2 separate regions of the Homo sapiens genome follow, and region 1 is linked to region 2. The links come from fine-mapping of genetic effects on gene expression. A gene starts in region 2. The other region holds a variant in brackets. All regions are shown on one strand. Distances are between the middles of the regions.

The links. PIP is the estimated chance that this variant, and not a neighbour inherited with it, causes the effect. A credible set is the group of variants that fine-mapping cannot tell apart.
Region 1: its variant is the best candidate, but not a certain one, in a credible set for the expression of SEPTIN6 in macrophages (Alasoo 2018, PIP 0.57).

What each region holds. Positions count from the first base shown.
Region 1 is chrX:119,639,271-119,644,635 of GRCh38, forward strand. It overlaps SEPTIN6 (septin 6), which reads right to left. Exons shown (of 11, transcript NM_145799.4): 6 at 1,422-1,518. Among named protein-coding and RNA genes, the nearest start is that of MIR766, 4.9 kb to the right of the region's middle. RefSeq lists an enhancer at 52-101. The variant T/G (reference allele first, on the strand shown) is at 2,398.
Region 2 is chrX:119,690,621-119,695,985 of GRCh38, forward strand. It overlaps SEPTIN6 (septin 6), which reads right to left and starts at 2,548. Exons shown (of 11, transcript NM_145799.4): 1 at 2,456-2,548. The coding sequence starts at 2,485. RefSeq lists enhancers at 1,562-1,611, 2,432-2,561 and silencers at 2,102-2,231, 2,742-2,791.

The DNA of each region.
Region 1 (5,365 bases), 51 kb before region 2:
AACCAGCCACTCTTTCACACGATGCCCCTATCAGCCACGGCCCAGTTTCTAGCTGTAGACTCTGAGGACCAGAGACCTCTTCTACCCACAGCGCCATCCTTGGCCTTGTCTTGTGCACTGAACTGACTAGCCCTGAGGGTAAGTTAACATATGTCAGGCAGATCACAGAAGGAACTTTCCTGAGTGTAATACAATATGTCTAATTGCTTTTCAATTGTGAAATAATCATACATACAAAGAGCATGAAATGTGTATGTACAATTTAAAGAATTTTTGAAAAATTAACACCAATGTCTCCACAACTCAGGTTAAACATTACCAGTACCTTGGAAGCCCCTGAGTGCCCTTTCCCAATCTCATCCCCCTCTATCCCTCAACTCCCCTGGCAGAGACTTAATCCTTCTCCTGACTTTGGGGATTATCATTCCTTTGTTTTTCTTTATAGTTTTACCTCTTATGTATGCATTCCTAAGAATATATATCTTGTTTAGTTTTGCCTCCTTTTGGAATTCATACAAAGGGAATCCAATGGTATGTTTCTTTCTTTCTTTTTTTTTGAATCTCACTCTGTCGCCCAGGCTGGAATGCAGTGGCAAAATCTCAGCTCACTGCAATCTCTACCTCCCGGGTTCAAGCGATTCTCCTGCCTCAGCCTCCTGAGTAGCTGGGACTACAGGCACATGCCACCATACCTGACTAATTTTTTTTTTTTTGTATTTTTAGTAGAAACGGGGTTTCACCATGTTGGCCAGGCTGGTCTCGAGCTCCTGACCTCAGGTGATCCGCCTTCTTCGGCCTCCCAGAGTGCTAGAATTACAGGAGTGAGCCACCGCGCCCAGCCCCAACACGTAGTTTTTTTAAATCCCTTATCCCCCTCCCACCCTCCCACTATCCAGTCTTTTTTTTTTTTTTTTTTTTTTTTGTATTTTTAGTAGAGATGGGGTTTCACCATGTTGGCCAGGATGGTCTCAATCTCCTGACCTCGTGATCCGCCCGCCTCGGCCTCCCAAAGTGCTGGGATTACAGGCGTGAGCCACTGTGCCCGGCCTATCCAGTCTATTTTAAAGAATATCTGAATTGTTTGTAATTATTTGTCATTACAAACAACACTACTGTGAACATTCTTCAGGTGCACTTGGGCAAGAACACATGCTTTTTCGCACACTCCTTCCTACCTTGCAAGTCCTTGTGTTTTAGGAATACCTTTCCCATTAGAAATTAGAGGGAGCTTGCTCCCATCAGAGCATCCCAGTATGGAGCCAGAGTTAGCTTGCTAGTGACCCCTATGGCTATTTGGGACCCATGCCGAATGAGCAGAGACTTGGGACAATTTAGAAACTTGTCATATAGTGGCTGGGGACAAACAAAGAGACAGACAAAAGGGGCTTCCTGTGTGTAGCCCTTCCCGGAGACTCACTCACCCTGCACAGTGCCCCAAGGATACTGCCGCGCCCTCATCATCTTGTTGCCTATCTTCAGTTCTTCTGTGCTGCCAATGACAGCAAACGGCAGGTGGGCCTGAAACCGAAGGCAAACGAAAGCTGAGAACTGCAGAAGAAAGGCACTGAGTGTTACACAACCCAACTGCTGTTCGTCTCTGGGGCCCCAGGCCCTCACCCTGCAATGTCCCTCACTGTCATCATCACCAACAAGCATTTATTAAGTTCCCAAACCATGTGAGGATAAGAGGCCTAGTCCAAGCCTCTGCTGTTCAGAAATTCACAATAGAGGGTAACAATGACATGGCTGAATGCATAGGGAACAAAGAGAGAAAATAAGCAGAATAATAAGCAGACACACAGATTACCAAACTATTCGCTATTCATAGTTACTGCTGAGGGGAAGAGCCTTTGGAAGAAGGGGAAGTGGAATGAGGGGGGTTCTGTGTGGATAGAGAGGATAAAGGAGTACCAAAGGGTCTGGGATCACTGGCCCTTCTCCCTCCCTGGCATGCAAGAGCCCCAAGACTAGGTCCATACTGAGACCACACAGCCAACTGAGCTGTACTCTCCTTGTTCTCATCCTTCCCCGGAGAAAGAGCTCACATTGAACTTGTGAGCCTAGAAGGCAAGTCACCAAGGATTTACTCACATGACCATGCTGGGTTCTTCTGTAGGTGCTATAAGGCAGACAGAAGCAGCAGAAGACACGCTCCCTCGCCCTCTAGGAGCTTACAGTCTTGTTGAGGAAGCCCAAATTACATAACTCAAGTCATATAAGATAGTATGTGATCAAGGGCTCAAGTATATGGTCTGGTACCCTGTACATAGTAGGTGCTTAATAAATACTTCCTGAATGGCAGTGGTAGGGCTAGGGAAAGAGGAAAGAAAGGCAAAGGACAAATAGGTTTATGAGCTTGGTGCTCACAGGGAAAATGAGGAGCTTGGCCTGGCTTTA[T/G]GGATGAGAGAAGAGAGAGCTGCCCCGACTTGGCAGTATGGGGCCTAGGAAACACTCACAGAGCCGTAATCCACAAGGAGCTAGCCAGCTTGTAAGTGCTAAGTCACCACAGCCAGATGGAACCACGGAATCAATGTTTACTGACCAGGTGAGCCCAGGTGGGGCTTTGCCCAAAAGGGCTTTACACCAACAGGTAAAGAGCCTATGGGGAAAGTTTCTTAGCCTGCCTGCAGAAACAGGCCATGATCTCAGATATTCTGACCCATTTGCCCACTCATCCATTCTACAAATATTTACTGAGCTCCTATGATATGTGCTAGGCATTAAGAATGACGTAATAGCAAAAAAGCACAGACCCTGGCCCCGGAGAGTGCACAGTGTGCCAAGGGAGAAAGCCATCTCAACAACGATCATACAGGAAGATCAGGGTTGTACCAGAAGTGGAGGTTGCAGTGAGCCGAGATCGCACCACTGCACCCCAGCCTGGGTGACAGAGCAAGACCCAGTCTCAAAAAAAAAAAAAAAAAAAAGAAAAATCAAGGTTGTAAACAGAGGCTAAAGGGCTGGAGTAACACAGAGGAGGGAGCAATTCTTGGGAAGTCAAATAAGTTGTTTCAGAGTAGGTAGTGGCAATCATACTAACAGCATTAGCATTAGCAATAATTTGTTAAGCCCTATGCACTGGGTACCAGCTGCTTTACATGGCATTGTCTCACTGAATCTCTACAACACTATATGGTAAGTTGCCTTATTAGTCTCCTCTTTAGATGGGGAAACTGAGGTCCAGAAGGGCTAAGAGACTTGTCAGCAGGCACACAATAGTAAGGAACAGAATAACTTCAAACCCCACCCCTTGCTGGTCTGCTACCTCCATTTAGGGGGTTCAAGCAGTAGATGAGGTGCGTACTCTAAACCTTGGGGGGAACTAGTTGTGCAAGACCAGATTATCAGAGGCAATTCAATTCAGGGAAACCCACAGCAAATCTGTCGCTTGTTTGTTTAATCCACAGGCTGATCTCACAGTCAATTCTTTTCTCCATTCTCCTCTAGCTCTGGACCCCAAAAATGTCCTTCAGAGCAGAAGAACACAGGATTTCATCAGGAGCTCAGCTCCAGGACCTCCACCAGTCCCTCAAATTGCTTGGCCGCCAGCTGAAGCTGCTCTTCTTTCACCCTCTCCACTCTCAGCTGCTATCAGACGATCGTCTCAGACACCCTCCGACCCCTCCCCACTCCACTGACTGTCCCTTAAATCTGGACATGGGAAAGAGGAGGTTATGGATTATGGAAGGTGGGTGTGGGGTGGAGGTGGGAAATGTTTCATCAGTCCTGGGAGGGGAATGACCAAAAGAGTAACTGGGCAAGTGACACACAGGGCATTTGGGAAGCACTGAATTCCTGAAAATGCTGCCCAAGGGCCTAAGCATGTCCAATCTTTGCCAGGAGAGTTGATCTGGGCACAATTCATCCCTACTCAGGGACCTAAGACATATCGGGAGCCTCGAATCCACCCCTAAACACTTTCTGGGAGGACATTTCCCCTGGAGAGACCCCACAGCTTCAGCCACATGACACAGAAGAGCCAAGGGGTGGCGAATGCAGAGAGCTAGACTGAGGGAGGAGGTGATAAAGAAAAACCACGTTGTAGCACTCCCTCCTCCTGGGCTCTCAGCTGTAAGTGATGGAGGAGGAAGGCATGTGAATTGGGAGGTGCTTCTCTGAGCTCGAGGAAAAAAAAAACCAAGAAGAAAACAAAGGCATACAAAAATGTCAGTATTCCCTCGGGCCTGTTGCATTTTTACCATCAAGAGACACCGTCAGAATGATAGGGTGACTTGCTTCCCCCTCTTTCTCAAACTGCTGTCATTTTATTCTTCTAGCTCAAAAACATAGCCCCAGCCCTCCCACAGCACGCTCCTTTGCAGCTGGCGTCAGTCTGCTTTGATAAGTATATGCAAGGTAGGCATTTCCCAGCGCTCTCCTTTGGTTTGATTTTCACAACATCCTTCTATGGCAATGATTAAAAGATCCATTCGTGAGCTGAGGGAACTGGGATACATGGAGGTTAAACGAGTTGCCTAGGTCCCTAACCCCCATGCCCAGATCCTCTGAAGCAGCAGCGAGGCCACCGAGCTTTGGCTGCCAACCTCTCCCAGCCACCTAGGGTGGTCCGCACTCTGCCTCCTGGCTACATGGCATCTGCTAGAAGGAAGCAAACCATGACAAGCAGGAAATCATGGGGACCAGGCTCTGGCCCTCTGTTCCACTGCTTTTGAGAGACAGATGGCTTTGACAACCAGAATAGAGTCGAGCAGAGCAGAGAGCAGATACCCACCCTCCCCCCGCACCACCACGGACCATACTTCTAGGTCCTACCAATGGGATCCAAATCTGAGGCCAGGCTTTCTGCTATTTTTCCCAGGTCTCTGCAGGAAACTGACAGACAGTGGTGACATTTTCTATGTGTGGACCCAGGGAAGAGACTCTGATAGATGCAGGGCAGTGTTGCTGCTGAAACACAAACAGGCCTCTCAGGAGAGTCTGTGTGACTCTCTCACTCAGACTTCCAATGAGGCGCCCTCGGATATCAGATTTCCCAGTGTCAGAAAACTCCAACAAGAGATAGTCGCAAGCCTTCCTTGGGAGTCCATTCCTAGATTCACCATCTGTCTTAGTGCATTTTGTCTTGCTACAGTAAACTACCTGAGACTGAGTAATTTATCAACAATAGAAATTTATTCAAAAAAAAAAAATTTATTCCTCATAGTTCTGGAGGCTGGGAGGTCCAAGATCAAGGCACCAGCATTCTGGTCTGGTGAGGACCTTCTTGCCGCATCCTCACACAGCAGAAGGACAAGCTAGCCCAACACTGCATGATGTCTCTTTAAAAAGGGTCTTCGGCCAGGTGTGGTGGCTCACGCCTGTAATCCCAGCACTTTGGGAGGCCAAGGCAGGTGGATCACGAGGT
Region 2 (5,365 bases):
GCTGAGGCAGGAGAATCGCTTGAACCTGGGAGGCTGAGGTTGCAGTGAGCCGAGATCATGCCACTTGCACTCCAGCCTGGGCAACAGAGCAAGACTCCGTCTCAAAAAAAAAAAAAAAAAAAAAAAAGAATTCCTAAGCTAGCCACACTTAGGTTTATTCTCTAGTCTTCTGTTCCCAAACCCTGAATACATGTTCCTTGGAGGAAACAAGCAGCAACCAGATGTCCAAGGTCTCCTGAGTTAACTCCGTCTTCCCTGGTGAATTACAACTTATTGCAGACACAAAGGAGAACAGAGAGACAAATGACACATAAACAGGAGCTTCACTGGCTGGGGGAGGGGGGCATGGAGAGTGACGTCAGTTTTCCCAGAAACCCATTTATCACGATAACAAGGTCTCGAGTGCTTAGGCTGCTCTTTCAGCTTCAGAATCTGGCGTACAATTATGTTCTTCATCATACAGTATGGCAAGGCCAGCCAGAGCAAACTGGAGCCATGCAAAGCAAACCAAGTGGCCCTAAAGCACCCCCTCACCCCCATCTGCAGAACAAAGGGCATCTCTAGGTTGCCTGAGTTGTGCCTGAGGTGAAACACACACAACCTTCTGGAATGTTCCCCATTGCAACATCTGCCCTGCAATCCTAATCCAGGCAAGAGAAACTGGTGAGAGTATGGAGGACAGGTCGATGCAAATTCATTAGCTGACATGAAAAATCATTAGCGTCATTTTTGGATGGAGCTAGTGTAATCCCAGAGATTAATTCCTCTACTTCAGCTATACCATCTCTGAAATGCAGGTAACCAGGAGCAGAAAAGCCACAGCAGAAAAGAGGGAGCCCTCAAAACACTAAAGCAATAAACAACGAGAGTGCCAATCTTGGGGGAAGAAAATTCTCTCAAATTGCATCATCACAGAGAATGTCCCCTGTCTACTCCTGGTCCTTCCACAACATGACTGCATAAAGTGCTCTGTGCTAGGGTGTGCAGGGGGTGGAGGAGGTTCCGAAGAAATGATCCTGCCCTTCCAAACAGGGACAAAAGAGACATTAATACATATTCTGTAGAGAAAATATTATCAGATTCTGGCTTCAGATTTTGTAAAATCAATTTCAATTACACCAAATACCTAGAGGCTTTTTTTTTGTACTGTAGTTGCATTGCATGAACTATTTTCCTAAATAAGTAAGCTACAAGGTTGAAAAACATTTTTATGTGGTTCAGAGATTTTCGTCAAGTAGTATGTGGTGTCATGGGATTTGACCTACCTCTGTCTCCCACTCCTTCCTCACCTCGGGGTGCTGGTGGGCTTATTAAAGTCCCAGATACCCATGGATGAATAGAATAGCTAGGGTGTCCCCCCCAAATGGAATTCATCGCCCTTTGCAACCAAACTTCTGGTTTAAAAAACAAACATGGAGCCTCAGGTCACTTCAACATGGTTTCTCTGCACATCCCAGGCTGGAAAACTTCAGTTCTTTAAATGAAGATTTTTTTTTTCCCAGAGTCGGTCGCCAACAAAAAAAGAGACGGCACCGCTTTTGCGAGTCTCACACTTATTTTCCTGAGTCTCCATAGAAAGAAGCCAGCTCCACAGGTTTTGGCACACAAGCCCAGTTACACTGAACATGCACCCGAGACAGATCCTCAGAGGCCCGCTCCAAAACATGCCAAAATACGCAGCCAGCCACCTACAGGCCAGCCAACTGCACCCCACACTGACGCACAAATGAGACCCAGAGGCACACAGCACAAGCAGACAGAGAGGCGTTCGGACACACACCACAGAGGTGAGCACACTCAGAGAAACACGCGGACTTCTTTGGGTCACAGACAGAACCCCGGCGCCGCCGCCGCCCGCCCGGGAAGACACGAGCGCGCGCGCGTGCACACATACGCGCACACCGATACACACACAGACGCAGTCACATATGTAATGCATATAGAGAAACCCTATCCCAGCCAGTCACCTCCCCGCCCCCCTCGCCACTCACCGCCTTCTGCCCCAGGCTAACCCCAGCCCCGCGCCTCTTTGCCTGTGCGGTCCCGGGTCACAACGGGCAGCCGTGCGCAGGGGCGCGGCAAGGCCAGGGTGCCAGGGACCCGGAGGGCTCGGCGGCTCCTACGGCCATTCATTCGGCAACGCCCCAGCCGTGGGGCCGCAGCTGCAGCGAGGGAGGCGGTGGCGCTCACTGCGGCTCTTGGGCAATGCAAGTTCAGCCGCCGGCCCGCAGGTTTTGCCTGCCCCCCTGCCGCCCCCCGCCCCCCGCGCGCCACCACCGTTTTCCGGGACAGGCTGAGGGACTGAGCTGCTGACCCCGGGAGCAGAAGTCCCACCGTGCCCTTGGCTCCTGGATGCTGCCCACTGCCCTCCTCGCGATGTGGCGGCGGCGGCCAGGTCTCCTTGACCCTCACCAGGCCCTCGGCCCCGGCCCTGGCACCCAAGCTCTGCACTTACCACCTGGCGAGCTATATCGGTCGCTGCCATCGCTCCTGCGTCCGCCAGGGCTGCCACGGGTGCCGCCGCAACGGGAGCTACTGCACAGGAAACAGAGGAGCTCCTCCGACAAAGAGAAAGTGTTACACTTCGGGCGCGACCAAGTCCGGTGGGGGGAGGTGCAAGGGAGGGGCCCCCTCGCCGCTGCTCCAACCCCAACCTCCCCTCTACCGCCCACCCCTTGAAAGTAGGGTATGGAGAGGGGGCGGATTTAACGCGCCGCTTCCCCCTATGGCCAGACCAGTTCCAGTTCTTCCTGCAACCCCAGCCATAGGCTTCTACGAAGGGGGGCGGGGGCTCCCCTCGGTGACCACGTCCTCTGCCCCCCCCGCCACTTGGCTCCGTGGTACGTCCCGACCTCTGCTGAATTGTCACACCCCCCTGCTCTCCTTTACATCCCTAAGTCCCCAGACCCCGAAGGCTGGAAGGGAGCCCCCGCCCCTCCCCCCTCCCATACTCTGCTCAGCGGCCGAGCTCTGCAGTTCTCCTCCCGGCCCCCGTTACCCCCCTTCCTTTCCACCGAGATCCCAAGGTGCTTAGATGGGTGCGCCTTGGCCGCTGGAGTCTCGATGCCCCACTGTCGTGTCTCCCTCCCTCCATGGCCCGGGAGCGCAGCTGCGGCCGAGGTACCGGGGAGGCCTGCGGCACCTGCCGCTCCACAGTAGAGCTTAGAAAGGGGGCCCGTGGGGGGAGCCGCACTGCAGCCCGGCAACTGAGCTGAGCTGTGGCATGTGGGGTCCGAGGCTAGAGGTCTTGAGACGCTGCTTCTGCCCTGGGGTTTCCAAGCCTTGGGTGCTGTGGGCTGTAATTTCGTGGAGCCAAGCTCACCACCTTTGGGTACCTAGTACAGACGGAACCCACGCCTCCTCTCTCCGACCCAGCCCTAGACGCTCAGCAAGACCACCCACCCCTTCTAGTACCAGAGGAAGGGCTGGAGATGAAGGTTCTCAGCTCTATGGAGCGAAATGGAGGGGCGGGTGACGGGGAGCGGCCTCCAGTCACTCTGTCCCGCCCCCTGATTTCTCCTTGACCCTCATTCAGCCCGGGACAAGGCGGCCAATAGGGCGCAGAGGAGAGAACTTCCGAAGGCAGGGGTGCGCCCGCCCGCCCTCCTTATCCCCGTGGCCCACCTCCGCGGGTCCTCTCTCGTGGGCACCTCTCCACTTCTCCGGCCTTGGCGCCCTCCCCTCTCTCTTGGGACTGGCCTCTTGCTAGCTCCCTGTCACTGGAGCACGCTGGCAGATTTGGCATGCCCGAGGCCCCAGCGGGAGGGACAGTACATTCCACTCCTCAAAAGGGCAGGTTCCCTGGTGTGGGAGAGAGACCTGGGCCCGCCAGAGGGACCCCAGATGGGGGAGGGGATGACAAGGCTATGGAGGAAACCCGGGCCCAAGAGGGGGCCCCAATGGAGCATGGAAGATGACCCCGTAAAGGCCCAAGGCTGGAGCAGCTGAGGAGGAGGCAGGAGAGAGGGAAAAAGAAAAGAAGGAACCAGGGAGAGAGAGGAAGAAGGGACTCGATCCAGAGGCCCTGGTCTCGGAGAAGTCAGGGAAGACAAGAAAATGGAGTAGCCAAAGAAGAGCATGCCTGGCACTTGGTTCCACCTGCTGGATGGAGCTTCTCACACTCTCTCGGGAAGCCCTTTATGTATGTACCCTGTGCGCCTGGAGAACAAGGACTCAGCAAACGCATCCCAGGGCCGAGTGCAGGGCCTCGCAGTCAGGAGGCACTCTATTAAGCTGAGGGCAGAGAACTTGGATGCGTGCGAGGGGGGCGGGGAGAAGAAAGAAGAGACACAGTGAGGGAATAGCAGTAAGGACAGTCATGAAGAGCCAAGTATTCAGGGAGCGCCACTGTGCGCCTTCATTGTGCTGGAGACCCAGGAGCGGCCTAAAGAGAAGAGCCTGGCAAAATCAGGGATCAGCGCAGAGGAGCTCCGCGAGACAGAAGGCGCAGGCCATAGGGCGGATGGCGGTGGCAAGGAAGAGGGGCAGCTGGAGTCTTTCAGACTCTCTGGAGCTTTGGGGCAGGGCCTGAGCCCTGGACTGGGTTGGCAGTGACACGGGGGACCAGTGCTATATCTGAGGAACCACGGTGAGGCTTGGGCCCCAACCGCATGGGGGCGGGGAGTCAGAGGTGACTGGCGGCTTCCAGGCTGGGTGTCTGGGACAGGGCTCTTCCCTGGCAAAGGCTAGGGCGTGGTGGACTGAAAGGCCCCGAGGTCACTAGCCCCGATCTGGACTTGGGGTTTGGGTGGTGGTGGGACAAAAGGGGAGAATTTGGAAGCCAGAGCAGAAAGCTGCTGCCGGAACGGGAGGGGACTGGAGGGCTGCGGGTCTCCCGGGAGAATCCCCCACGCACTGCCCCGCCCGCCTTAGCACTCCTCGCGGACTGAAGCTCCGTACTTACCGGCCCAGCGCTGGGGGCACCTGAGCACGGAATCCTTGGTGTCTCATCCATATGCCCCATTCGGCCCTCCTGTCCCTAGAGACTACCAGAACCTCACTGCGTCCTCCTCCTCCAAAACGCTGAACCTCGAAGACCTGAACTAAGTGCTTAATTCAAGTCTCCTGGGACCCTTTGGTTCCTCCAATACCTGCCCACCTGCGGCTACAAGTCCCTCCTGGGGCCTGGGCCTCCAGCCTCCTTCGGTGGGGTGTGGGTCAGTGTGTGTGTTGGTCTTGATGTGTGAGTAGATGTGTCGGTGTGTTCGTGTGTATTGTCAGTGTGTGCTAGCTGTGTGTCTGTATATCTGTGTGTCAATGTGTGTGTTGGCATGTGTTGGTGTGTCAGTGTATTTCAATGCATGGTGAGTGTATGTGTGTCAATATGGAGAGAGGTGTTAGCTCACTAGCTTTACATACCTTATCT